Homo sapiens: one gene and its partners. The protein of the gene in region 3 purifies or fractionates together with the protein of the main gene of each other region. This does not show direct contact. Each region holds a gene or a part of one and is shown on either strand. Other genes may lie near its edges. The genes, in order: ABCC10, ENTPD7, TEX264, CEP131, MCM10, LTAP1 and SNX14.

Evidence for each region.
Region 1: the proteins of TEX264 (region 3) and ABCC10 purify together in Homo sapiens (affinity purification with mass spectrometry; 3 studies listed by BioGRID and IntAct, with this or other methods). This does not show direct contact.
Region 2: the proteins of TEX264 (region 3) and ENTPD7 purify together in Homo sapiens (affinity purification with mass spectrometry; 3 studies listed by BioGRID and IntAct, with this or other methods). This does not show direct contact.
Region 4: the proteins of TEX264 (region 3) and CEP131 purify together in Homo sapiens (affinity purification with mass spectrometry; 3 studies listed by BioGRID and IntAct, with this or other methods). This does not show direct contact.
Region 5: the proteins of TEX264 (region 3) and MCM10 purify together in Homo sapiens (affinity purification with mass spectrometry; 3 studies listed by BioGRID and IntAct, with this or other methods). This does not show direct contact.
Region 6: the proteins of TEX264 (region 3) and LTAP1 purify together in Homo sapiens (affinity purification with mass spectrometry; 3 studies listed by BioGRID and IntAct, with this or other methods). This does not show direct contact.
Region 7: the proteins of TEX264 (region 3) and SNX14 purify together in Homo sapiens (affinity purification with mass spectrometry; 3 studies listed by BioGRID and IntAct, with this or other methods). This does not show direct contact.

The regions. Positions count from the first base shown.
Region 1 is NC_000006.12:43,441,041-43,444,540, reverse strand, and holds part of ABCC10 (ATP-binding cassette sub-family C member 10), read right to left. Parts: intron 2,680-3,500; coding exon 2,581-2,679; intron 1,572-2,580; coding exon 1,382-1,571; intron 640-1,381; exon of another isoform or gene 609-639; coding exon 531-608; intron 383-530; coding exon 188-382; intron 1-187. UniProt on the Homo sapiens protein: ATP-dependent transporter of the ATP-binding cassette (ABC) family that actively extrudes physiological compounds, and xenobiotics from cells.
Region 2 is NC_000010.11:99,666,009-99,669,508, reverse strand, and holds part of ENTPD7 (ectonucleoside triphosphate diphosphohydrolase 7), read right to left. Parts: intron 1-3,500. UniProt on the Homo sapiens protein: Catalyzes the hydrolysis of nucleoside triphosphates and diphosphates in a calcium- or magnesium-dependent manner. Preferentially hydrolyzes nucleoside 5'-triphosphates, with substrate preference for UTP > GTP > CTP.
Region 3 is NC_000003.12:51,677,752-51,681,251, reverse strand, and holds part of TEX264 (testis-expressed protein 264), read right to left. Parts: intron 1-3,500. UniProt on the Homo sapiens protein: Major reticulophagy (also called ER-phagy) receptor that acts independently of other candidate reticulophagy receptors to remodel subdomains of the endoplasmic reticulum into autophagosomes upon nutrient stress, which then fuse with lysosomes for endoplasmic reticulum turnover.
Region 4 is NC_000017.11:81,198,966-81,202,465, forward strand, and holds part of CEP131 (centrosomal protein of 131 kDa), read right to left. Parts: intron 3,434-3,500; coding exon 3,275-3,433; intron 1,482-3,274; coding exon 1,364-1,481; intron 871-1,363; coding exon 754-870; intron 585-753; coding exon 416-584; intron 7-415; coding exon 1-6. UniProt on the Homo sapiens protein: Component of centriolar satellites contributing to the building of a complex and dynamic network required to regulate cilia/flagellum formation.
Region 5 is NC_000010.11:13,192,558-13,196,057, reverse strand, and holds part of MCM10 (protein MCM10 homolog), read right to left. Parts: coding exon 3,490-3,500; intron 1,018-3,489; coding exon 789-1,017; intron 1-788. UniProt on the Homo sapiens protein: Acts as a replication initiation factor that brings together the MCM2-7 helicase and the DNA polymerase alpha/primase complex in order to initiate DNA replication. Additionally, plays a role in preventing DNA damage during replication.
Region 6 is NC_000001.11:154,210,591-154,214,090, forward strand, and holds part of LTAP1 (protein C1orf43), read right to left. Parts: intron 3,357-3,500; coding exon 3,303-3,356; intron 2,035-3,302; coding exon 1,868-2,034; intron 1,789-1,867; coding exon 1,730-1,788; coding exon of another isoform or gene 1,726-1,729; exon of another isoform or gene 871-1,725; intron 1-870. UniProt on the Homo sapiens protein: General regulator of phagocytosis. Required to uptake Gram negative bacterium by macrophages.
Region 7 is NC_000006.12:85,545,359-85,548,858, forward strand, and holds part of SNX14 (sorting nexin-14), read right to left. Parts: intron 3,019-3,500; coding exon 2,943-3,018; intron 2,193-2,942; coding exon 2,148-2,192; intron 2,040-2,147; coding exon 1,959-2,039; intron 1,869-1,958; coding exon 1,754-1,868; exon of another isoform or gene 1,726-1,753; intron 1-1,725. UniProt on the Homo sapiens protein: Plays a role in maintaining normal neuronal excitability and synaptic transmission. May be involved in several stages of intracellular trafficking. Required for autophagosome clearance, possibly by mediating the fusion of lysosomes with autophagosomes.

The DNA of each region.
Region 1 (3,500 bases), on a different chromosome or scaffold from region 3:
ACAGAAGCCAGCTATAGAGCACATGCCTCTGGCCCCTGGGCATCTCTCAGAATTAGGAGTATGGCTTTTGTCCCAGCTGTGACCCATGCTTGGTGAGTCTCTGGGCTTTGTAATGATTAGTGCAAGGTAATGGGCACCTAGACAGCACAGCCGTTACGATGTAAGAGACTCCCAGGCACGCTCTCACCTTGCATGAGAAGCAGAGAGAAGAGGATGGCTAAGGCCAAGCCCTGGCCCACGGCCTTCCAGTAAGCTTGGTACACGTGCAAGGCCACGGCGCCCTCCTTCTTGCTTTCTTCCTGCAGCAGGCGACCAGATGTGCTCTGCTCCTCCTCCAGCCCCTCCTTTGTTTTCTCTGGGTTCTGTACTGACTGGGCTGTGGCTGTGAGAATCAGGGGTCATGGAAGAATTAAGCTTGCAGGGTGCCAGCTGAAAACTCAGTATTTCAGAGGAGCGGGCAGCCGTTGTAGAAAAAGCTCTACAGTGTGGCAGGGAAAAGCAAGCCCTTTTCTCCCACTGGGGAGCCATACCTGAGTCAGACTCTTGTCCATTCTCAGCCCAGGCTTTGGGGACAGCTTGTACCAGTGGCAGAATCTCAGAGGGAGGTCCTGGAGGGTAGAAGGGGAGATTGGGAGAGGACTGTTCTGAGTCTATACTATGCCTTTCTCAGTGCGTGTGCAGATCCCACCTCTCATCCTCTCAGGCCTCCCCGTCTAACCCACCCTAGCAGGATACCCCTAGACCTCGAGCAGGACTCTTAGGCCTCCCTCTCTAACCCACCCTGCTCTGGATACCCCTAGACCTCGAGCAGGACTCAAGTCCATCCTTGTAAACCTTGATTCCGACCAGCAGAGAGGGACGAATGTCCATCCCCAAGAGGACCGCCAGAGCTATGCCTGCCACTCTGTCCAGGGTTACTTCTCATTACTGCAGAGCTTTTTCTCATGCTTCGCTCAATTCCTAATATCTGGCTGGAGCTTCATTTCCTCCTATTTCTCTCCCAGTAAACTTGCAGGTGGTCACATCCCTCTGCATAAAAATCTTTCAGAGTTTAAAAATTTTTGTTTTTACAAAAAGACCATTCTAAACCTGACTCCTTTCTCTTCTCTGAAGATATGAGAATGTTCTCAGAGACCCTGGGCCTTTAAGTTCCCAAGAGCACCCAGTCACAAAGCCCATGAGTCCCAAATACACTGGCATTTTACCAACGTACTCCTTTTCCCTCCTGTTCTCCCAGTTCCTCACACCAGTTCTGTGAAGGCGGGAGGCAGCAATGACTGGCTCAGGGCACACATGCAGCAGGGGGCAGAGTCTGTACTTCACAATCCCCTGCCAGACCTGGGCAGACACCTCCCTCACACGGGGCTCCTGCCCCCATTACCAGCCCGGATGAGGCGCCCGGCCTCCATCAGCAGCACCGCGTCAGCCCTCTCCAGGTACTCAGTGCGGTGGGTGCAGAGCAGCCGTGTGGTGTAGCTCAGCATGCCCAGGATGCACCTGTGCAGCAGGTGGTTGGCCACATCTGCATCCACAGCGGCCAGAGGGTCATCGAGGAGATAGAGCTCCTTTTCCTATGGAGACGTGAGGGTACCGTGGGCACCAGGACCCAAAGGCTCTCCGGAGAAGATCTCAAAGTGATCAGAGAAGACAGTTGAGAGAAACTCTGGGGGCTACCCCTACACTAGCAGAGAAGGAGGTGAGACCTGAGGGTGGACATCCCTTCAGGCAAGAAAGAACAGCACCCCAGGGCCAGCACTCAGCTTTCCTAGGTCCCAGGCCCTCAGCCCATATAACACTTTTTTTTTTTTTTGAGACATGGTCTTGCTCTGTTGCCCAGGCTGGAGTGCAGTGGCATGAACACCACTCACTGCAGCCTCAATTTCCCAGGCTCAAGTGATCCTTCCCACCTCAGCCTCCTGAGTAGCTGGGACTACAGGTGCATGCTATCAAGCCCAGCTAAATTTTTTTGGAGACAGGGTTTCATTCTCATCACCCAGGCTGGAGTGCAATGGTGTGATCTTGGCTCACTGCAACCTCTGCCTCTCGGGTTCAAGCGATTCTCCTGCCTCAGCCTCCCGAGTAGCTGGAATTACAGGCATGTGCCACTATGCCCAGCTAATTTTTGTATGTTTTTCAGTAGCGATGGGGTTTCACCATGTTGGCCCAGCTGGTCTCGAACTCCTGACCTCAAGTGATCCACCCTCCTCGGCCTCTCAAAGTGCTAGGATTACACCAACTAACTTTTTAAAATTATTTTTTGTAGAGACAGGGTTTTGCCACATTGCCCAGGCTGATCTTAAACTCCTGGGCCCAAGCAATCCTCCTGCCTTGGCCTCCCAAAGTGCTGGGATTACAGACCTAAGCCACCATGCCCAGCCTACAAATACTTTTTAAAGGCCTTGAACTCTGCCTTAAATCTGCAAAAGGGGATGAGATGGCCAATACCTCAGGAACATGCAAGGGAGGAGGGAAGGAACCAGATGCTAAGGAAAATATTCCTATCCTCCTAACTCAGCCAAGTTCCCAAGGCTCTGGACTCCCCCCACCTCCCTGCCACTGCAACCTCCATCTTTAACTGACCTGGTAGACAGCACGAGCAAGGGCAATCCGGGCACGCTGTCCTCCGCTAAGGGTGACACCCTTCTCCCCCACCTCTGTCTGGTCTCCAGCAGGCAGGATCTGATGGAACAGGTGCCCCAGTGGGTCAGGGAGCTCCCATTACCTTCTGGCCCACTTCCTATCCCTTTGCAGGAGATAGTGGGAGTCAAGAGAAGTAGGGAGCTTGAGGAGAGTAGACTTAAATTTGGGGTGAGCTAGTCAGAGGAGACAAGACATAATTCCAATAACATCAAGCACTTATTGAACACTATGTGCCTAGCACTTTACAGGCATTCTCTCATTCAAGCCCCAATGTAATCTTATGAAGATGGTATCATTTCCTTTTCTCAGGTGCAACCAAAGCTCAGACAGATTAACTAGCTGGCCCACAGCTAGTAAGGGGCAGGACACAAGTTCAGATTCAGATTCTTAACTACTTTGTTACATTTACTACCCTTTTTTTTTTTTGAGACGGAGTCTCGCTCTGTCGCCAGGCTGGAGTGCAGTGGCACAATCTCAGCTCACTGAAACCTCCACCTCCTGGGTTCAAGCGATTTTCCTGCCTCAGCCTCTCGAGTAGCTGGGACTACAGGCGTGTGCCACCATGCCCAGCTAATTTTTGCATTTTTAGTAGAGACGGGGTTTCACCATGTTAGCCAGGATGGTCTCGATCTCCTGACCTTGTGATCCACCCACCTTGGCCTCCCAAAGTGCTGGGATTATAGGCGTGAGCCACCGTGCCTGGCCTATTACCCTGTCTTTTTAACAGGCAAGGTAGTAAGGTATCTTGGGCAGATTTGATGTAAAAGCTTTTATAGGTTTTTACTTTTTTGTGTGTGTGAGACAGAGTCTTGCTCTGTCGCCCAGGCTGGAGTGCAGTGGCATGATCTCAGCTCACTGCA
Region 2 (3,500 bases), on a different chromosome or scaffold from region 3:
TCCTACTCTCTCTTTCCAGAAGCAATATGGATACATGTTCACAATAAAGAAAAAAAATGTAAGTCTTTAGTTCTGGAACTACTGAGAGAAAACCCCCTGACAGGCTTCTAAAGTCCTGGTTAATATCCCCTGAAAAGTGATATGTTAAATTCCACCAATGCCTATAAAAAGTTCACATTGAAATATCTGTTTTCAATGCAAAAGTAATTAAAATATTTTAAACATTAACTGCTTTCATATATATTAAAATACAAAGATGCAATGTGCAAGAGAGACTATCATTTCTAATTAAAGCAATGCCTTATTTGTCAAGACCATAAAACAATGAATGGGCCTAGGACAGTGGCTCACATCTGTAATCCCAGCACTTTGCGAGGCCAAGGCAGGTGGATTGCTTGAGCCTAGGAGTTCATGACTACGCTTGGCAACATAGGGAGACACTGTCTCTACAAAAAAAAAAAAAAAAGATATATAAAATAAAATAAAGAATGCATGTAGTGTTCCTCTAGGCACATTTTCCTGATCAAAGGTTTGCAAACTTGCTCCCATGAAGACACGTGTAAGTGGGTTCCTGGAAGACAGCACACTTTCTGAGGGACACCACAAAGTACGGATATAATTTCACTGTGTGAATTAGGAACAATTTAAGTAGAAAAAATATGTCTATATATGAATATAATATAAAAAAATCACAACTACAGGCGCTTGTGTTAAAACTTTTTTAAGCTGTTAAATTAAGGTAGCAAGTGTTTCTACCAATTCCTAGTTACTTGCTTAATCATTTCATCAAAATTTTAAATAGAGATTATAACGCCCATTATCTTCAGTGTATATTTTCAGGCAGAGAAGAGAATTGGAAAACAGAAAAATCAAGATTATTTCAAATAATAGATTGACATTTGATTAGTCAATCAATGCACCTGACATTCCTAGATGCTCTACTCTTCTTATGCAAATGACAAGACTAAAAGACAGCTATTTTTATTCTCACTTTATATATAAAGAATATGAAATTCCAGGATATTAAGAAACCTGCCCAAGATTACCCAACTAGCAAATGATGGGCTGATTAACTCTAATATTAACATTCTTTCCCTTACCTCACAATACCTCCTTAAGTAAATGTAACCAAATCTTAAAGCAGTTTTTCTCAACCCAGGTGGTATATTAGATTCACCTTGAGAAGAGTCCCAATTATTTGCATTTTTCTAAAGGTCCCCAAGTGATTTAGATACACAAAGGTTGAAAACCTCTGATTTAAAATTATCATTAATGGCCAGGCATGGTGGCTCACGCCTGTAATCCCAGCACTTTGAGAGGCTGAGGTGGGTGGATCACATGAGGCCAGGAGTTTGAGACCAGCTTGGCAAACATGGTGAAACCCTGTCTCTACTAAAAATACAAAAATTAGCCGGGCATGGTGGTGCGCACCTGTAATCCCAGCTACTCGGGAGGCTAAGGCATGAGAATCGCTTGAACCTGGGAGGTGGAGGTTGAAGTGAGCTGAGATCATGCCACTGCACTCCAGCCTGGGCAACAGAGTGAGACTCTGTCTCAAAAAAAAAAAAAAAAAAAAAAAGATTATCATTTCATTAACATAAATTTTTAGACTATGTAATAAAACAGTTTTAACAACATATGTAGAACTGTTTACCACTATAGAAACTGTCTGTAGAAATTTTGAGTTATTGAGTCTATCTTTATTAAATTTCCTCTCTCCTGCTTCACTGTCAAGATGCCAGATATAACTGATTATTGTCATAATGTGCCCACATCTAACAACACACCCCACCCACCATTCCAATTTGCTGTTATCTACTGTGTTCTGAGACAAGTGAGAACCATGCAAATGAGAACAGTGTGTAAAATAAAAGCTAACAGGCTTTATGTGAGAGCCTATCTTATCAGTAAAGTACAGGTGCTTTTAGCACATGAACTTAGTGATATCAAATTTGGTTGCTCAAGAACTTCTTCTGTTTAATTTCTGATTCTTAGCTTTGTTCCTAATTCTTAACCTTGTACATAGTTCCTGATTCTTCACTCCTGATTCTATACAACCGTACCTAAACTATTATCTCACTGGGAAATAATTTTTCCTTTATGCCTGCCTCTCTAACTAGATTACGAACTCCTTGAGTTCAGGGGCTATGTTTAGTCATCTTTGTACTCCAGTGCTATCATAGAGTCATCGACACAGCAAACCCTCAATAAATGTTTGCCTCTTAAATGACTCATGGAGGCTGCCCTGAGTGAAGTTTAATGATAAATGGTCATTTGTGGCAATATATACAGAACCTTTCATTAAGTAACAATGAGCTCTGAGCCACAGCATTCCAGGGTGTTAGGACTTTGGTGAGGTCGCCACAGTGGCACAGTCTATGTGTTCCTCAGCTCTATTGCTAACTTGTTTCAATTAATTCAACCTACCAAGTATTTATTGGCTCTGACCACTTGGGATACAGTGATAGACAAGAATTATCAGATCACTCTGCCACCCACATACATTTAAATGCTTTTACCTCTCTCCATCCTCTTGCAACCACAACCATCTCTCTATTGAGGTACAGTCATTGACTTACAATGGTACAACTTATGATTTTTCAGCTTTATGATGGTGCAAAAGTGATGCACATTCAGTAGAAAGTATACCGTGAGTATCCACACAACCATTCTGTTTTTCACTTTCAGTACAGTATTCAATAAATTACATGAGATATTCAATACTTTATTATAAAATATGCCTTCTGTTAGGTGGTTTTGCACAACAGTAGGCTAATGTAAATGTTCTGAGCACCTTTAAAGTAGGCTAGGCTAAGCTATGACATTTGTTAGGTTAGGTGTATTAAATGCATTTTCAACTTATGATATTTCAATTTACATAACCCATCATAAGTCAAGGAGCATCTCTAGTTCAATTACTCTTCCTGCTTTCTTTTTCATTCCTCTCCAATTCTTTTTCCACAATCCCACCAAAGTGAGCTTTCTTTAAGAAGCAGTTCTGGCTGGGCACGATGGCTCATGCCTGTAACCCCAGCACTTTGAGAGGCCGAGGCAGGTGGACTACTTGAGGCCAGGGATTCGAGACCAGCCTGGCCAACATGGTGAAACCCCGTCTCTACTAAAAAATACAAAAACTAGCTGGGCATGGTGCCACATGCCTGTAATCCCAGCTACTTGGGAGGCTGAGGCAGGAGAATTGCTTGAACCTGGGAGGCGGAGGTTGTAGTGAGCCGAGATAGCGCCACTGCACTCCGGCCTGGGTGACAGAGTGAGACTCTGTTTCAAAAAAAAAAAAAATTAAAAAGCAGTTCCAACCTTTTCACTCTTCAAAACCTTTCAAAGCCTTCCTTCTGCCCTGAGGGTAATGCCTAAACCCTCTAAAATAGCTTAACAGACTCAGCTTGATCTAGCTCTCCAGCCATACAGCTCACCATTCACTCCCTAATTGTCTTTAGCCATATTAACTAACCTACATGGAAGTCCATAATTAGACCATGTCG
Region 3 (3,500 bases):
CCTCCACCTGGAGAAAAGGCAGAGCTCCTGTCAAAGTGGAAGAAGGGAGCTAAGAAGACAGGGCTCCCAGGATCCAGGAGGTGTGTGGGGCACAGCAGCTCCTTTCCTGGCTAAGCAACTCCCTAATTCCACAAGTAAGAACACTTCCTACCTCCTCCCCTGCCCTGGCCTAAGGAGGAGCCTAGAAGGTCTCTCAGCAAGCCTACCACCCACTAAGTGGCCCCATGCAAAGTTGAAGCTGGGAAGCAGCTGAACAAGGCACCAGCAAGGAGGAAATGGGACAGGCCCTAAAATAACCTAGGGAGTGGCAAGGCTGATCCAGTGGCAGAGGAAAGCTTTCCTGGCCTCCCAGTAAAGCCCAGACCCGCCTCCAGGGAAAAGGCCTACTAAGGCTGTCAAGTGCCCAGAAGGTTGGGATGTCCTGATGGGCAAGAGACCCCATCCACCTTGGCTCAATGAGTATCTGTATTTGGGCCGAACCCTAGGACATAGGCCTGGGCCTCCCAGCCCTACCTGCCTGCTCCTCTTCCTCCCCAGATCAGCTATTTCTCTGGGTACCTCTGCCCAGAACAAGAATTGGACCAGAACTAGTACCTACAAGGAACCACATCTGGGAAACAGGGCAGTGGCCAGACCCACCACCACTCGGGGTAAAGACAAGCCCATCCAGGATGTGTCCTCAAAGCAAGAGTACCAGGAAAACAACAGAGGCATGCCAGGCCCCAGAGCATCTCCTTTGGGCTGAAAAGCCTCCTGAGTCCCATTACTGGGAGGAGAGGGCAGTCTGCTTAGAACCTGAGGCTTCCAGGTACGAGCTAGTCCCAAGGCTGGCCCCACTGCCCCTTCCTGAGTGGTGTCACAGTGCCCTGCCGACCCTATTGTGTGAGGCTATAGCGAAGACAGCCATCTCGGGGCCCCTGCCAAGCCAAGACCTCGCTGAGTCTGGGAACTGGACAAGACTGATAATCTTCCAGGATGCAGGAATGAGAAATGGTGTCAGCGGCCCAGACCAAATGTAGTCATTGGGTTCAGGGTTAATACAAACTGCCAACCCCAGGCCCACAACCTACACAACCTGACAGGGACAGCAGCACCATCTCTCAAACCCAGGCACAGAGGGCTGCCCTTACTCTTCCCATGCCAGCCCACTGACCCAGAGCTACCCAAGTTAAGGGGGAAAGTAGAGGCAGGGCCCTTCATTTGCACTTGTACTCCCAAGGGAATAGACGAGCTGCACTGGCCCATGACTAGGTGGTTGATACGGGACCTCGTTTGCCCTCCTAGGTGCTACAGGTCAACACGCCAACCCCCAACTTCCCTGGGAAGCTTATGCCCAAAGGCACACGGAGACAGGCACCAGTCAGGACACGAGATGATGCAGACAGCTAGGCCAGAGGACAAGCCTCATTCTTCAGGCTCGGGAGGAAAGAAAGGAGTCAACAAGATACCAGCCCTCAAAGGTGAGTTTACTTAGAAACCTTTCAGGAACCTTCCTCTATAACCCTACACCTTCAAACAGAATCCTAAAAACAGCTGATATCTGACCAGGCACTCACCACTTTCCCCAGACTCTGCCTTCCAAGCATAAGCTCATTAAATCCAAACAGCCTTCTGTGGTTGGTACTGTTTTCAACCCTGTTCCCAAGGCCCAGACAACCAAGCCATTCAGCCAAGGTCACACAGCAAGGGAGTGCTGAAGTCAGGATTCAAACTCAAGCAGACCAGCTTCAGAGCTGCGCCACACAACCCAGGGGCATCCAGGAGTCCCGGAAATTGGCCCTAGTGAAAGCGGGCTGCACAATGGCTTTTCCCTGCACTGTGCCGCCTCACATGGCCCAGACAACCTGCAGGAGGCTGGGACTAAACCAGAGAGGCAGGCAGGGTCCCTAAAAGTACAAAGTCCCAGTGGCATGAGGTCCTCAGGCAGGACTGGATGTCAAGTGTGACACCCACCTATTTAAAGAACTGGGTATTGGGCCATATCATTATCAATTAGCCCCCACAAAACAAAAACCCTGAGGTAGGGATTCTTTTATCCTCATGTGACAGATGAGGAGACATACTCAGACAGGCCAAGTGACTCACCTAAAGTCACACATTGGTTAGCAGTGGAGCCTTGATTCAAACCCAGAAGGGCAAATCCGAAGCCCCTTCCTCTCACACCTCGTCTCACCTCACCTCAAGGACAGTTCTAGTGGGCAGAGAGGAGCTCGTGCTTCCAGACCTGTCCCACATAGTTAACCTGCTGCACAGCAAATGCCTGGACTCCACCTGGCAGAAAATAACCATGGAGTAACCAGGATAGGGGGCGGCCTGAGCCCTCAGGAAACATCCCAGCCCACATTCCCATTGCCTTTGTTGAGGAGGTCAGTCCTGGGAAATCCTACTCCCTCACCCCTTCCCAGGCTCCACCCAAACTAAGTGCCTCCAGGGAGGGCAGGGAGCCTTCTCTCCACACACACTGAGGGAGGAGGGAGTGTGACACAGGCCTACATCAGAACTCTCACCAGCCTCTGTGAGGCTGTGGTCATGCCAGCCAAATGACCACAGGCCCCTGCAGACCTAGTGGCCCTGGGCCTTGGTTCTCATTGGACTAAGGGAAAGGGGGCTTCAATGGCAGTCTTGTTTACTAAAGGCAGAAGCAAGTACCACCAGTTCCCCAACCCACTCCATGCCTGGAGCAAACACCACCTCCTAGGTAGTAGATGTAAGCAGCAAATATAGGCCCACTTGGGCCACATAAATTGAACTAGCTGCCACACCCATCTTGCCCCAGCCAGGCTCCCCATATAAGCAAGCAGGCAGGTTGCTTAAGCCCCAAACATAGCAGCAGAGGTGATGGTGGCACAGGGTGGGGCAGGAGGTAGAGAGCCAGCCTGGCAGACAGGATGGGCCCACAGGCACAGTGATAGCAGCCCAGCCACTAGGGCCTGTCCACAGGCCAGAGCTGGCCAGGATCAAGCGAGGCACTCAGGGTCCTCTCAGCTCCTTCCTTCCCCTCCAACACTGAAGGCTCCCAGAGGGACCAGGCCCCAAAAGGGAGCCTGAAGTCACTTTCCAAGCCCCCAGCACCCACCGCAGAAGCAGGGCTAAAGGCAGAGCAGTTTTTCTAGTCAGGACCCTTCCCCAGTCATGCAAGGGCAGTATGGACCAGTGTGTGTAAGGGAGATCTGTGACTGACATCCGCCTACATGTGATCCTTATCTCTGAACTCATACCCCATCCCTTGCATACCTTGAAGAGGAATGGCCCACACTCCATGAATGCTGGGCTCTGAGGTGGGTGAGTACACCCATGAGCCCCTGCCAGGGTCTGTCCACTTCCCAAAAGACTTCTTCCCCACCTTCCCATTCCCAACCATGCCAAGGGTTTCAGGGATGGAGAATGGAATCCTTCCTCCTGCCTCACAAGAACCACTCACCCAGACCTGCAGCCTCTTCCCATACAGGACTCCAGGGCACAAGGCTAACAGCTCCAGCAGCAGCTACTATGAACAGGTC
Region 4 (3,500 bases), on a different chromosome or scaffold from region 3:
CACCACCTGCACAGCAGAACACAGCACCATTCCACAGGGAGCATCCCGGGGCGGGCAGCAACTCTGGAGGCACCCCCGGGAAGGAGCCAGGCATGGGGGAGGCGGAGGCGACCCCAGAAGCAGAGGAGCCGCTGGGGAGCCACGGCCTTCTGGGTGTGGAGCTGTGGAGGATGAGTGCCACCCCTCCCTTCCGGGCCTTCTACTCTGTAGGGATCCCTACGTCCAGGACCATTTGATTGTCAAGGTCTCGGCACCCTCGTCAGGTCAGCTGGGGGCCAAGGCCCCTAACTCCGAGGACTGGGGCCGCCAACATGGGCAGCAGCACAGGAGGCCGAGAGGAGGTCCACAAGGGCTGCACTTCCTTCCTGGCTGCAGTCCACCCCCCAGAGCAGGGCGGGCGTGGAGCCACTCTCACCAGTATTGTTGGCCTTGAGGGCCTGGTGGGCAGTGCCGCCTGGTGTGGGGGACAGCTCCTGAGCAGGCTGCCGCATTCCTGGCACTCTGGTCTCCCTGGGATTCTCAGGTGGCCCACGCTCGGCAGTGCTCGCCTTCTGGGCTCTCAGGGCTCGTTTCTGTTGCAGCTCCTGCAGTGGGAGCATCGCTGAGCACTGTCCCTGGGAGAGGACGACCCCAGGCTCCACAGCCAAGCTGCCCTGAGGCTAAGTGTCCCGGGGCCCAGGGAGCCCCAGCAGCAGCCCCGCACGGTCAGGCCTGGGCCACGGTGCTGCTCAGTGGTCCCTGCGCGGTCAGCACCTGAATGGCTGCTCGCCTGGCTTGGCGTGCCTTCTCCTCCCGGGCCTTCCTCCTGGCTGCCTCTTTCTGCTGGTGCAGGTCCAAGAGGGTCCCCTCGCCTGACCGCTGCCGCTGCTCCTGCCAAAGAAGCCGGTGCCATGTGGCGTTTACATCTGGAAGACGGAATCCAGACCCAGACCAGAGGTTTCCCCACAACGCCCTGGAGTCCCCTAGAGTTCGTGGAATCTCAGGGCCAGCAGGGAAAGTGAAACCCCACCAGGACCTTGAACCTGCCATTTCTCTGCTCTACAGAGGATGAGCCCTACGTCGCAGGTGGCCAACAGTTCTGGCGTGGGGGAGACAGCTCTGCCCCCACAGAACGTCCTCCTGAGACTCTCCAGCCTGGGATGGACCCAGCAGGCGTTTCCTGACACCCAGGCCCTGAGGACCGCCAGTGAGGACCACCCTGACTGTCCGCGGGGACCCAGGGTCAAGAAGGATGCTGCACCCAGAGACGGGGCCCACGAGCAATCCTAGGCTTTGATTCCACCTGTCCCAGAAACTCAAACCCCTGGGATTCTGGGCCAGACCCCCCGGGGGAGCATGGAGTGACTGAGACGCCCACACTGACCTCCCGCTTGGCCTGAAGCAAGTGCTCCAGGCGGGCAGCTCCTGCTCCGCGCCGCTGCACCTGGTGCCGGTACCAGCGCTGGATGGTGACAGTGGCCTGGTTCACCTGGTGGATAAACCTGCCCGGAGAGCAGGACTCAGGGCCAAGACAGGACCAGCGCCCCGGCAGGACCCAGCTGGCTGCTGGTGGAAGGTCGAGCCGGGGAAGAGAGAAGCCGGCGGCTGCACTCAAGTAGCCCTTTTCACAAGGCAGGACCAGCCCACCTGGACCATTTTCACATGGCAGGACCAGCCGCCTGGACCAGCTCCACTAAAACCCAAAACCTTCTTCCTGGGAAGGTGCCCAGGGGAGAGGAAACGCCTACCCACGCAGGCCTGTGTGGCCTTATTTACAATTGCCAGGAAGTGGGAAGAGTTCAAATGCCCATGACCTGGCTACAGCGTGAATACTGGATGGCGGGACCCTACCCACAGGCAACAGGCCCGGGACTCAGGCCAGTGCAGACCACAGGCCGTGGCTCCACAGAGAGGGTGGTCGGAACAGGCAGGGCTATGAGGGAACAGACTGGTGGCTGCTGGCATCTGGGCGGGGAAGGAGCTCGAGGGAAGCCTGGTGGTGCTGGGCCGTTTCCTTATCTTGGTCTGCTGTGTCCACAGACAGCACTATACACCCTGGTGGAATCTCATGGAACTGCACACTTACAATGGGCACCTTCTATTGTATACAAATTATACTAAGTAAAACTGATTAAGCAAAAAAAAAAATGCTTCACCTTGGCTCTCGGGACCATGTGTGGATTCTCTCAGCAAAGGCACTAACAGAGAACCCAGAACGTGTGAGCCCTAGCTCGGGAGCAGTCTGCCCCGGGCAGAACTGGGGGGCTTCAAGGGGTTGCGGGCTTCTGGTCCCCCTTCCCTCGTGCCACCCACCGCGTCTACAGGCCTGGTCTCCCTAGCCCTAACTGGGCGGTAGGGTAGGTGACGGCTCCGCCAGGAGCAGGCTCCGAAAGTCCAGGCAGGGAGGTACCCCCGCGACTGTCCTGACAAGAAACGACTGTCATGGTCACAGGAGGCTCCGCCCACAGCCCCTCCAGCTCCCCAGGGGCAAGCGGCAGGGGCACAGCCCCCAACAGTCATCATCACAGGAGGCTCCGCCCACAGCCCCTGGAGCTTTGGGTGTTGTTGGCTTTTTTCAGTTCTGTATCTTCTTTGCCTTTAATGTTGTTTTAATTAACAGTTTTACTGAGGTACAATTTCCATACTATAAAATCTACCCATTTTCAGTGTACAAGTCAATGATTTTTAGCAAATCTAGAGTTGTGTGACCATCAGCACAGTGCAGTTCTGGAATGTTCCACTGCCCCTGGAGGAGCCCTCTCTGCCACCCCTACACCAGCCTTCGACCTCCTGTGATAAACTTGCCTTTGCTTGGTGTTTTATGTAAATAGAACCACACCACATGGGGTCTGCTCGGTCTCAATATTTTAAAACAGGCCGGGGGTGGTGGCTCACGCCTGTAATCCCAGCACTTTGGGAGGCGGAGGCGGGCGGATCACGAGGTCAGGAGATCGAGAACATCCTGGCTAACACGGTGAAACCCCGTCTCTACTAAAAATACAAAAAATTAGCCAGGCGTGGTGGCGGGCACCTGTAGTCCCAGCTACTCGGGAGGCTGAGGCAGGAGAATGGTGTGAACCCGGGAGGCAGAGCTTGCAGCGAGCAGAGATCGCGCCACTGCACTCCAGCCTGGGCGACAGAGCGAGACTCTGTCTCAAAAAAAAAAAAAATTAAATTAAAACAATTATTAAATGGAAATTTCTATCCTCGGAGGTGTGAGCCCCCCAGACCCTGATGCCTGCCCACCTCTGTGTTCTAGGCTCAGGCCCCCCCCCACCGCCCCAAGATCGGTCACCTCTCAGCCTCCTCCTCCGTCACCTCCTTCCGCCTGGGCAAGCCCGTGCTGCCCCCAGTATTGTTCCGGGCTGAGTGGGTGGCACTGGAGACATTCTTCGGCAGCTTCCCAAAGCCGCTGCTCTCACTGCCCTCACAGGTGGCTGCCTTGATGATGTTGCTGACAGGTAAGAAGAAAACACCCTCGTCTCACCGCCCAGGGGAACAGCTCTGCCCACAGGCAGCAG
Region 5 (3,500 bases), on a different chromosome or scaffold from region 3:
GCATGTGCCTGCAGTCCCAGCTACTACTTGGGAGGCTGAGGCAGGTGGATGAATCGATCCTGGGAGGTTGAGGCTGCAGTGAACCATAATTGCACCACTGCACTCTAGCATGGGTGACAGGGGGATAGTCTGTCTCAACAAATAAAAAATAAAACCGCCAGGCATGGTGGCTCACACCTATAATCCTAGTACTTTGGGAGGCCGAGGTGGACAGATCATTTGAGGTCAGGAGTTCGAGACCAGCCTGGCCAACATGGTGAAACCATGTCTCTACTAAAAATTAGCCGGGCGTGGTGGTAGGCGCCTGTAGTCCCAGGTACTCGGGAGGCTGAAGCAGGACAATCGCTTGAATCTGGGAGGAGGAGGTTGCAGTGAGCCGAGATTGCGCCACTGCACTCCAGTCTGGGTGACAGAGTGAGACTCCTTCTCAAAAAATAAATAAATAAATAAATAAATAAATAAATAAATAAATAAACGTAAAAAAAGGATTCCTTAAACCACCATTTTACAGTCTCACCTCAACAATTCCAAGCATTGTTTTCCTACTGTCAATGCCTCTGGTTATAAAACACTATCTTCCTCTAGGCTACCTCTTGTAGCCTGACAAGAAAAAGTGTTGAGATAACAGATCTAACTTTCTTTTAGTATTATGTTGACACTACCATGTTTTCAAATTACACTGACTCTAATGATCACGATCAATAAAGAGCTATTAGGTGTCTGTCTTTCCTCCAGCTCTGCTCTACAGAATGCAAACTCAAGTGCTAAAGAGAAGAGATGCCAGTTACCTTTTTGGCTTCTGCTAAAGCACTCAGTTTTGGTCTTGGTGGTGGTGACTCATCATAAAAGAGAACATCATCTCCTTCCAAGACACCTCGCCCCAGCTTGGGCGTCATTGTGGCCGGGGCTCCCTCCAGCCTGGGGAACTCGGATCCTGTCCGTGGAGGCTGAGCAGGGGGCTGTCTTGATGAAGATGGCACAGCTGGGCTCTCAACTTCACTTGAGCTCTGCAGAAATCTTTAAAGAACATACAGTCAAAATACGCAAACAGGGTTTACGAAAATAAAAACTCTAGAACTCAAAGTGGACTGGGAGGCGGCAGGCAGGCCACCAGTTGGGAGCTAGTTGTTAGCAAAATAATGTCCCCTTCTAGGCTGGTAATTCAAATTTGCACACGATAAGAACAATACTAGCTTTACTAACTCCTCCTTAATTGAGTTTTCTTTGAATAAGCTGTAATTGTCCTAACACTTTAGAACTGATAACTGTTTTTATCAATTGGCTGTCCAGTGGATGTCATCCACAAGGAACACAGCTGAAGACGCGGTGTGAACTGTATTCCCACCCCTACCGTCAGCTCTAGGGCCTGTAGGAACTCATTGCACCTCCCTGCATCTTTGTTTATGCTACTGGGAAGAGACAATACATGTGAGACATTTGGAAGTCATTAATGAAAAACACTGTAACTTGCAGCGATTATTTTACATCCCCTTTCTTTTTTTTGATTTTTTTGAGACAGAGTCTCGCTGTGTCACCCAGGCTGGAGTGCAGTGGCATGATCTTGGCTCACTGCAACCTCTGCCTCCCAGGTTCAAGTGATTCTCGTGCCTCAGCCTCCCAAGTGTTGGGATTATAGGCGTGAGCTATCATGCCTGGCAAAAAATAGTTTTAAGAGCTATTTTACTTTTGTTTTTGGAGACAGGGTCTTGCTTTGTCACCCAGACTAGAGTGCGTTGGCACGATTGCGGCTCGCTGCCACCTCTGCCTCCCAGGCTCAGGTGATCCTCCCACCTCAGCCTCCCGAGTAGCTGGGTCCACAGTGTGCACCACCATGCCCAGCTAATCTTTGTACTGTTTGTAGAGACAGGATTTCGCCATTTTGCTCAGGTTGGTCTCAAACTCCTGGGCTCAGGCGATCTGCCTGCCTCGGCCTCCCAAAGTGCTAGGATTACAGACATAAGCCACCAAGCCAGCCTCATAAGAGATATTTAAAAACAAATAACAAACCCCAGAAATCATCTAGTCCAAACTTCTCATTTGATCGATGAAGAAACTGAGGCCTAGGATCACATTACTCACAAGGGCCAGACTCAGGATTAGAGCCAGGCCATCCCAGAGCAGTACTCTTCCCAACCGCACAGCCACTCTTGCAAGCTCTAGGCTGTGTTTGCAAACTGCCTATCAAATCCTACGCAAAGATAAGGTTTCCTTGGCCAACAAAATTCTGAAAATTTTCATTACGCAATGCCTTCAAGCTGATGGGCATTCTCTATTTCCCACGAGGCCCCCAACTCCATACATATTTCTGTGTCCACGTATATAATTTATGTCATCTGTAGGCTCAAGATGAATAGCTCTATAGATATCCCACCGGCACTTCAAACTAATCTGCCTGAGACCAAACCCATTCTCTTACTTTCCCAAAGAATTTCCTCTTGTCTTATCATTGACTCCCTTTCATGGATGTGGTTGCCTTTCAGCAGCCCAGATTCGGGATGGCAAAAGGTTCAGCACCAGAGCACAACATGTGTGAGCCCAAAACTCGGCCCCACCATAAACTAGCTCTCTGATCTCCAGGCACACTATTAGTAAAACAAGGCTGAGAAGCCTCCGGAGGCTCAGATACTGTGTTTATGGAGTACGTATGAAGTGCCTGTGAACCGCAGCTCTCATTAGTATTCAGGTGACCTGAGTTCAGGAATCATTCATTTGTCCACCTACCCTATGCATTTCCACTTGATTTTTTTTTTTTTTAATTATTGGCTGAAGCCAAGTAACACATTTCCACTTGCTTTTGCCTCTAAAATGACTCTCCATTTTTAGTGCTTCAGTTTTGTCCTTTATCCAAAGAACTGTATTCTACTCACTGGCTCTGCCTGTCATAAAAAACTGAATTGCGGCAAAACCCAGAAATGGCAGCCAGGCAAATCCAGGCTTGCGTCCAGGAATTTGAGACCAGCTTGGGCAATATGGCAAAACCCAGTCTCTATAAAAAAATACAAAAATTAGCCAAGCATAGTGGCACATGCCTGTAGTCCCAACTACTTGGGAGGCCAAGGCAGGAGGATCATTTGAGCCTGGGACATGGAGGTTGCAGTGAGCCGACACTGCAGCATTGCACTTCAGCTGGGGTGACAGAGTGAAAACCCGTCTCAGAAAAAAAAAAGAGAGAGAGAGAGAAAATGACAGCCAGCATGTGAACCTACGCTCTCCCCCTTCACAAAAACCCTCTTTACATACACTTCACTCCTTTCCCTTTTCCATGGTGATAACGACTCTAACCTGTACCATTTGGTGTTGGGAGTCACCAGTGTAAGAAATAATACAGCCTTAAATGCTATTCAGGTTATGGGAAAACTATTTTAAACTTTCAGAGTTAAAACGCAGCCAACCGAAACCTGAAGTCACATTCTGGAAATCGATGAAGACGTTCTGAGGACGCCTGAGATGGATGACCCAAGCGGGGAATATTAAATCTGCTCCTCTTACCGCTTCTGTAT
Region 6 (3,500 bases), on a different chromosome or scaffold from region 3:
CCTCACCTTCCTGAGTGGCTGGCATTACAGGTGCGCACATCATCATGCCCGGCTAATTTTTGTATTTTTGTAGAGATGGGGTTTCACCATGTTGGTTAAGCTGGTCTTGAACTCCTGACCTTAGATGATCCACCTGCCTCGGCCTCCCAGTGTTGGGATTACAGGTGTGAGCCACTGCGCCCGGCCTAAGTTTTTACTCTAGATTGGCTTTCCTTTCTCGCCAAGAACTTTGATTTTAACATTTGCATGAAAATACGAGACTATGTTTAGTGTGTATTAAAAACATTCCCAAACAAAAGCCATGAATCCTCTCCTGTGACACAAATGCTCAACAGCTGACTCTATAGCGATGGCCTTTGTTTCAGACATGGTTACTAATACTTTAAGTGGTAGTAAAAATAGATTTTTTTAATTTTTAATTTTTATTTTTTTTTTGAGACAGTCATGCTCTTGTCACCCCAGCTGAAGTGCAATGGCATGATATCGGCTCATTGCAACCTCCACCTCCCGGGTTCAAGTGATTTCTGCCTCAGCCTCCCGAGTAGCTGGTATTACAGGAGCCCGCCAGCATGCCCAGCTAATTTTTGTATTTTCAGTAAAGACGAGGTTTCACCATGTTGGCCAGGCTGGTCTTGAACTCCTGACCTTGTGATCCACCCTCCTCGGCCTCCCAAAGTGCTGGGATTATAGGCGTGAGCCACCGCGCCCGGCCAAAAATAGATGTTATTTAATTCTTTTTTTTTTTTTTTTTTTTTTTTTTTTTTTGAGATGGAGTCTTGCTCTGTCACCAGGCTGGAGTGCAGTGGCGTGATCTCAGCTCACTGCAACCTCTGCCTCCTGGGGTCAAGCGATTCTCCTGCCTCAGCCACCCGAGTAGCTGAGATTACAGGCACGCACCACCATGCCCAGCTAATTTTTGTATTTTTAGTAGAGACAGGGTTTCACCTTGTTGGCTAGGATGGTCTTGATCTCTTGACCTCATGATTCGCCTGCCTCGGCCTCCCAAAGTGCTGGGATTACAGGCGTGAGCCACCGCGCCCGGCCCAATGTTATTTAATTCTTACTTTTATTGGGCCAAGACACAAAAGGGACGCTGAGACTCTGAAGAGAAGGAATCCCTGTGTGTGCTGAAAAACTATTCCCTTTGCTAGGCTACACCAATTTTGACATTTTATTGGGCTAAACAAAAGACAAGAAAAATGCACACAAGAAAAATGCTAGTAAAAACTTCTTTTACTAGCTTGTATAGTTGCATCTGCTTTCTTTTCTTCTTTTTTTTTTTTGAGACAGAGTTTCACTTTTGTTGCCCAGGCTGGAGTATAATGGCACGATCTTGGCTCACCGCAACCTCCGCCTCCCGGGTTCAAGAGATTCTCCTGCCTCAGCCTCCCCAGAAGCTAGGATTACAGGCATGCGCCACCACGCCCGGCTAATTTTGTATTTTTAGTAGAGAACGGGGTTTCTCCATGTTGGTCAGGCTGGTCTCGGATTCCCAACCTCAGATGATCCTCCCGCCTCGGCCTCCCAAAGTGCTGGGATTATAGGCGTGAACCACTGTGCCCGGCCGCATCTGCTTTCTAATGTAAGAGACTGATCTAATAGTCTAGAACCTGACAACTCTTATGGTATCATGGATTTTGTTTATATGCTTTATGAAGGTCACTGCACTGTGGCAACAGTCCAACACTACTGTACCAGCTCCCTCTGACACGTTCCCCTCCAAACTCACGCAGTGGCCAGCTCACTCAGGGCCTCCTGATAGCGTAGGTACTCATTCTGGCCAAAGACCTTAGGAAAGAGAAAGGAAGAGTGAGGATCTCTCAGTCTGAGGGATCTCTTTAGTGCCCCGAAGAAAAAACTGGCTTACCCCTGTCCCATAGCGGGCTGTTTCATAGCCATCCAAAAGGGTATCAATGAGTGCTTTGCGTACACCCTTGAAAGGCGTACTAGTGTTTCGCAGATCCAGCAGGTAGGAGCGGAAATTCTTGCCCATTAAGGAACGGGGATGCCGGCCTTCAGAATGAAATGGGATCTCTGTGGAGAAAACAGCACAATGATATCTCTTCTCATTCTTTAGTCTTTTTTTTTGAGATGGAGTCTCGCTCTGTCACCCGGGCTGGAGTGCAGTGGCAGTGATCTTGGCTCACTGCAACCTCCACCTCCTAGGTTTGAGCAATTCTCTAGTCTCAGCCTCCTGATTAGCTGGGATTACAGATGTGCACCACCATGCCAGGCTTATTTTTGTATTTTTAGTAGAGACAAAAATACAAAAGGGTTTCACCTTGTTGGCTAGGTTGGTCTTGAACTCCTGGCCTCCTGTGATCTGTCTGCCTCGCCCTCCCAAAGCGTTGGGATTACAGGCATGAGCCACTGCGCCTGCCCCATTCTTTAGTCTTTCTAGTTAATTCCCCAAACTTAGAAGTAGGTCTAATGAAGCTGGGCGCAGTGGCTCACGCCTGTAATTACAGCAATTTGGGAGGCCGGGGCAGGCAGATCACCTGAGGTCAGGAGTTTGAGACCAGCCTGGCCAACATGGTGAAAACCTGTCCCTACTAAAAATACAAAAATTAACCAGGCATGGTGGTAGGTACCTGTAATCCCAGCTACTCGGGAGGCTGAGGCAGGAGAACCGCTTGAACCCAGGAGGTGGAGGTTGTGGTGAGCCAAGATCGTGCTACTGCACTCCAGCCTGGGCAACAGAGCAAGACTCCGTCTCAAAAATAAAAAGAAATAGGTCTAATGAAATGAGCAAGTTGAGTTAGAGGGAGATTCTGATTGAGACCAAAGGTATAAAGCTGTGCCTGAGTGGTCATTTGGTGGTAACACCACAGTTGTAAGCTACATCTATGACACATGATAGTGTCATCACACATTTTACCATCCTGCTTACTCATCCATCCTAGGTTTAAGATATAAACTGTTTTCATAGAGATAAAGCATATATGACAAGTGTTGACAGAATGGAAAAAATTCAAGAACAATCTATCTTGGGCTTAGTGAAAAAGCAGGTGCCACCTGTCCTTTGTGGAAAAACAAGCAAATTACTATCATCTACTTCATGAAACTAAAGGTCTCAAGAGAAGAACTTTAAAAAACAAAACACCCAGACTCTTTGGAGAATAACCTGCTTATATCATTTCCTTCAGCAAAATCTCTAATCTAGTACTTTCAAAACTCTAGAATTTCCTACTAGCCAGGGATGTGCAGAAAGGACAAATCCTAACATACAAAGTGGGTTCATTACTCTGTTCCCTAGGTGGGCTTTCAGGATCCTAGAATGGACCCTGTCAGGTAGCCCTTACCAGAGGTACGAATGGCATCCAGAGCTTTCATCCTATACAGATAGTTGTAGCAACCTGTTGAGGAAAAGACTGGTGTTAGGCATAACCCTAAAAATATTCCCCAGGCTGGGCGTGGTGGCTCATGCCTGTAATCCCAACACTTTGGGAGGCTGAGGTGGGTGGATCACCTGAGGTCAGGAGTTTGAGACCAGCCTGACC
Region 7 (3,500 bases), on a different chromosome or scaffold from region 3:
AAGATTACTAAATTAGGTTTTTTTAAAGTGAGAGAAACTATGTGCTGCTTACTAGAAATACATTAAACATTTCAATCAGATAGAAAAAGATATACAAATGAACACTCAAATATAAAGAAAGATGATGTGGCTATATTAACATCAGACAAAGCAGACTTCAAGACTAAAAATTACCAAAGATAAAAGAGGAGCATTTTATAATGATAAAAGAATAAATTCATTAAGAAGATATAACAATCTTAAATGTGTCTGCACCTAATAATGAAGTTTAAAAGATATATGCATTCATACAATGGAATACCACTCAGCAAAGAACAAACTACATATTTATTTATTTATTTTTGAGACAGAGTCTCACTCTGTCACCCAGGCTGGAGTGCAGTGGCATGATCTCGGCTCACTGCAACCTCCACCTCTCAAGTTCAAACAATTCTCCTGCCTCAGCCTCCTGAGTAGCTGCGATTACAGGCATGAGCCAACACGCCCAGCTAATTTTTGTATTTTTGTCGAGACAGGGTTTCACTATGTTGCCCAGGTTGGTCTCGAACTCCTGACTTCAAGTGATCCACCTGCCTCGGCCTCCCGAAGTGCTGGGATTGTAAGCATGAGCCACTGCGCCTTGCCCAAACTACTTATTTAGACAAAAACATACATGAACTTTAAAAAGCATTATCCTGAGTGAAGGAAGCTAGGCACAAAGGAGTACATATTATGTGATTCAATTTATATAAAAAAAATTATACAGGCAAAACTAATCTGTGCTGAGAGAAATGAGACCAGTGATTGCTTTGGCAGGAGTAGGGGAAAGAGTGGATCTCTTGGGAAGGATCCTAAGGGAATTTTCTGGGCTGATGGAAATAAATGTTCTAGATCTTGATAAAGATGCAGGTTACGTGGATGTACACACATGCAAAACTGATCAAACTATACATTTAAATTCCATGTGTTTCACTATATAAATTATACCTCATTTTTAAAGTTATATTTTAAAAAGAAATTAAATGCATTAAAAACAATATTTTCAGTCTATAAAGTTTCTTATAAATCCAATAATCTATAATGCTACAGAGCTTATAATTAAAATGAGGTATTCTTATATTTGATAATTTAGTCAAAACAATCCTTTACAAAAACTGTGAAAAAGTGATATTGACATGGGCTACAGTTTGGGTTTTTAATATATTTTCATTATACTGTACTTTTAGTATTTTTTTTTTCTGCTACTAGGATTTGAATGAAGTTAGTGACAGATTATTTCCCAATCTGGAAAGAAGTGGGCACTTGAGAGAAACCCACATATGCTCTTAGAAAATCAAGTATATGGCCGGGCGCGGTGGCTCACGCCTGTAACCCCAGCACTTTGGGAGGCCGAGGTGGGTGGATCACCTGAGGTCGGGAATTCAAGACCAGCCTGACCAACATGGAGAAACCCCATCTCTACTAAAAATACAAAATTAGCTGGGGTGCTGGCACATGCCTGTAATCCCAGCTACTTGGGAGACTGAGGCAGGAGAATCGCTTGAACCCAGGAGGCGGAGGTTGCAGTGAGCCAAGATCACACCATTGCACTCCAGCCTGGGCAACGAGAGTGAAATTCCGCCTCAAACAAAAAAAAAAAAAAAAAAAGGAAATCGAGTATATGAAATTTAGTACAATGATAGATGGGTACCACAACATCAGATCTGATTTAAAATATTCAAATACATTAAAAGGTTTAAAAATTACTTTCGTAAAATACACAGGTAAGCCTCACCCACAGTCAAACAAAACTGCAACACGTGCACTGCGCCTTCTTGTTTCAGAAAGTTCATAAAACGAAATAAAAGATCTTGTTGCTCTCTGATTTGCTTCAATTCTAACTTCAGCACCTTGATATAAGAGAAAGATTAAGTTTAAGCTATATAAATGAGTTCTAAAATTGTTTATATCAAAAAGGTGTTATTGCTGAAAATTCTTACAGATGGCTTTTTATTTCTAGGTTCTGCAAATTTCTGCAAGAATGGAACCAAAGGAGAAGCCGGTTCAGTTGCTTTTTCAGGCTTTGAAAGAAAGAGAATTATTAACTCAGTAAAATTCCCACTTGATTTGACATACAAAATCAAAATTCAATGCAATCTGAAGTGTTTTCTAATATATTCAATACTCACTGGACTGTCATCTATGAAGATGATAAGCAAATGATTCACAGTATCCTAGTGGAAAATAATAAACATAAGTCAAAATAATTCCACTACTGTATTCTCCCCAGAATTCTCATAACTTGTATCATATTATGTAAGTTTCTAGAAAAATGAAAAAATAAATGGAGCAGTAGCAAAAAATCTGCACATATGTATTACAGCAGGAGTTTTTTTACATCTACAAAACAGGTTCTTAACCTTTGTGAAAATGGGCAAATAAAAGCTATTCTGATTTTGGCATTTAAAATATTTCTAAATCATTCTTGTTTCTTCAAAATCTCACTGGATCAAAGGTAGAAGCATCCAAAGTGTCCATCAATGGATGAACAGATAAGCAAAACATGTTATACACATACAATGAAATATTACTCAGCCTTGAAAAGGAAGGAAATTCTGACACATGCTACAACATGGATGAACCTTGAAGACACTATGCTAAGTGAAATAAGCCAGTCACAAAAAGACTAATACTTATGATTCCACTTATATGTGGTACCCAGAGTAGTCAAATTCATGGAGACAGAAAGCAGAATGGTGGTTGCCAGGGGGGGCTGGAGGGAGGAAGGAATGAGGAGTTATTGTTAACAGATGCAGAGTTTCAATTTCATAAGATGAAGAGTTCTGGAGATGGGGAATGGGGATGGTTGCACAACAATATGAATGTTTTCAGTATCACTGACTATATACATAAAAATGTTTAAGATACTAAATGTTATATTAAGTGTAATTTGTAACAATTTAAAAAAAAATCTTAAGTCTTACTGGATCAGCTAGGAAATCCAAAGAAGGAAGGAACACAGAGCCAGACAGAATCTCTCTTATAAGTAAGGTCAGAGATCTGGAAAAAGAAATAATAATAATTGTTTATATTTAGTGATTTATATTAGTTCTTAACTTTCAAGTGCATGTGAATTACGTAAGGATCTTGTTAAAATGGAGACTATAATTCAGTAGGTCTTGGTTAGGCCCTAAAAGTCTGCATTTCTAACAAACTCTCAACCAATGTTCATGCTACTGGTTTGCAGAACACACGTTGAATAGCAAAGAGTTAGAGTTCTTACTTGGCTAAAATAGAATATTACTTAAGAGAAGAAAAAGTATTCCCTTAACAGGAGGAACTTGGGGGACATTAGGAAAAACTCTCTATCGGCCGGGTGGGGTGGCTCACGCCTGTAATCTCAGAACTTTGGGTGGCCGAGGCAGGGGGATCACAAGGTCAGGAGTTCAAGACCAGCCTGGCCAACATGATGAAACCCCGTCTCTACTAAAAATACAAAAATTAGCTGGGCATGATGGTGCATGCCTGTAATCCCAGCTAAT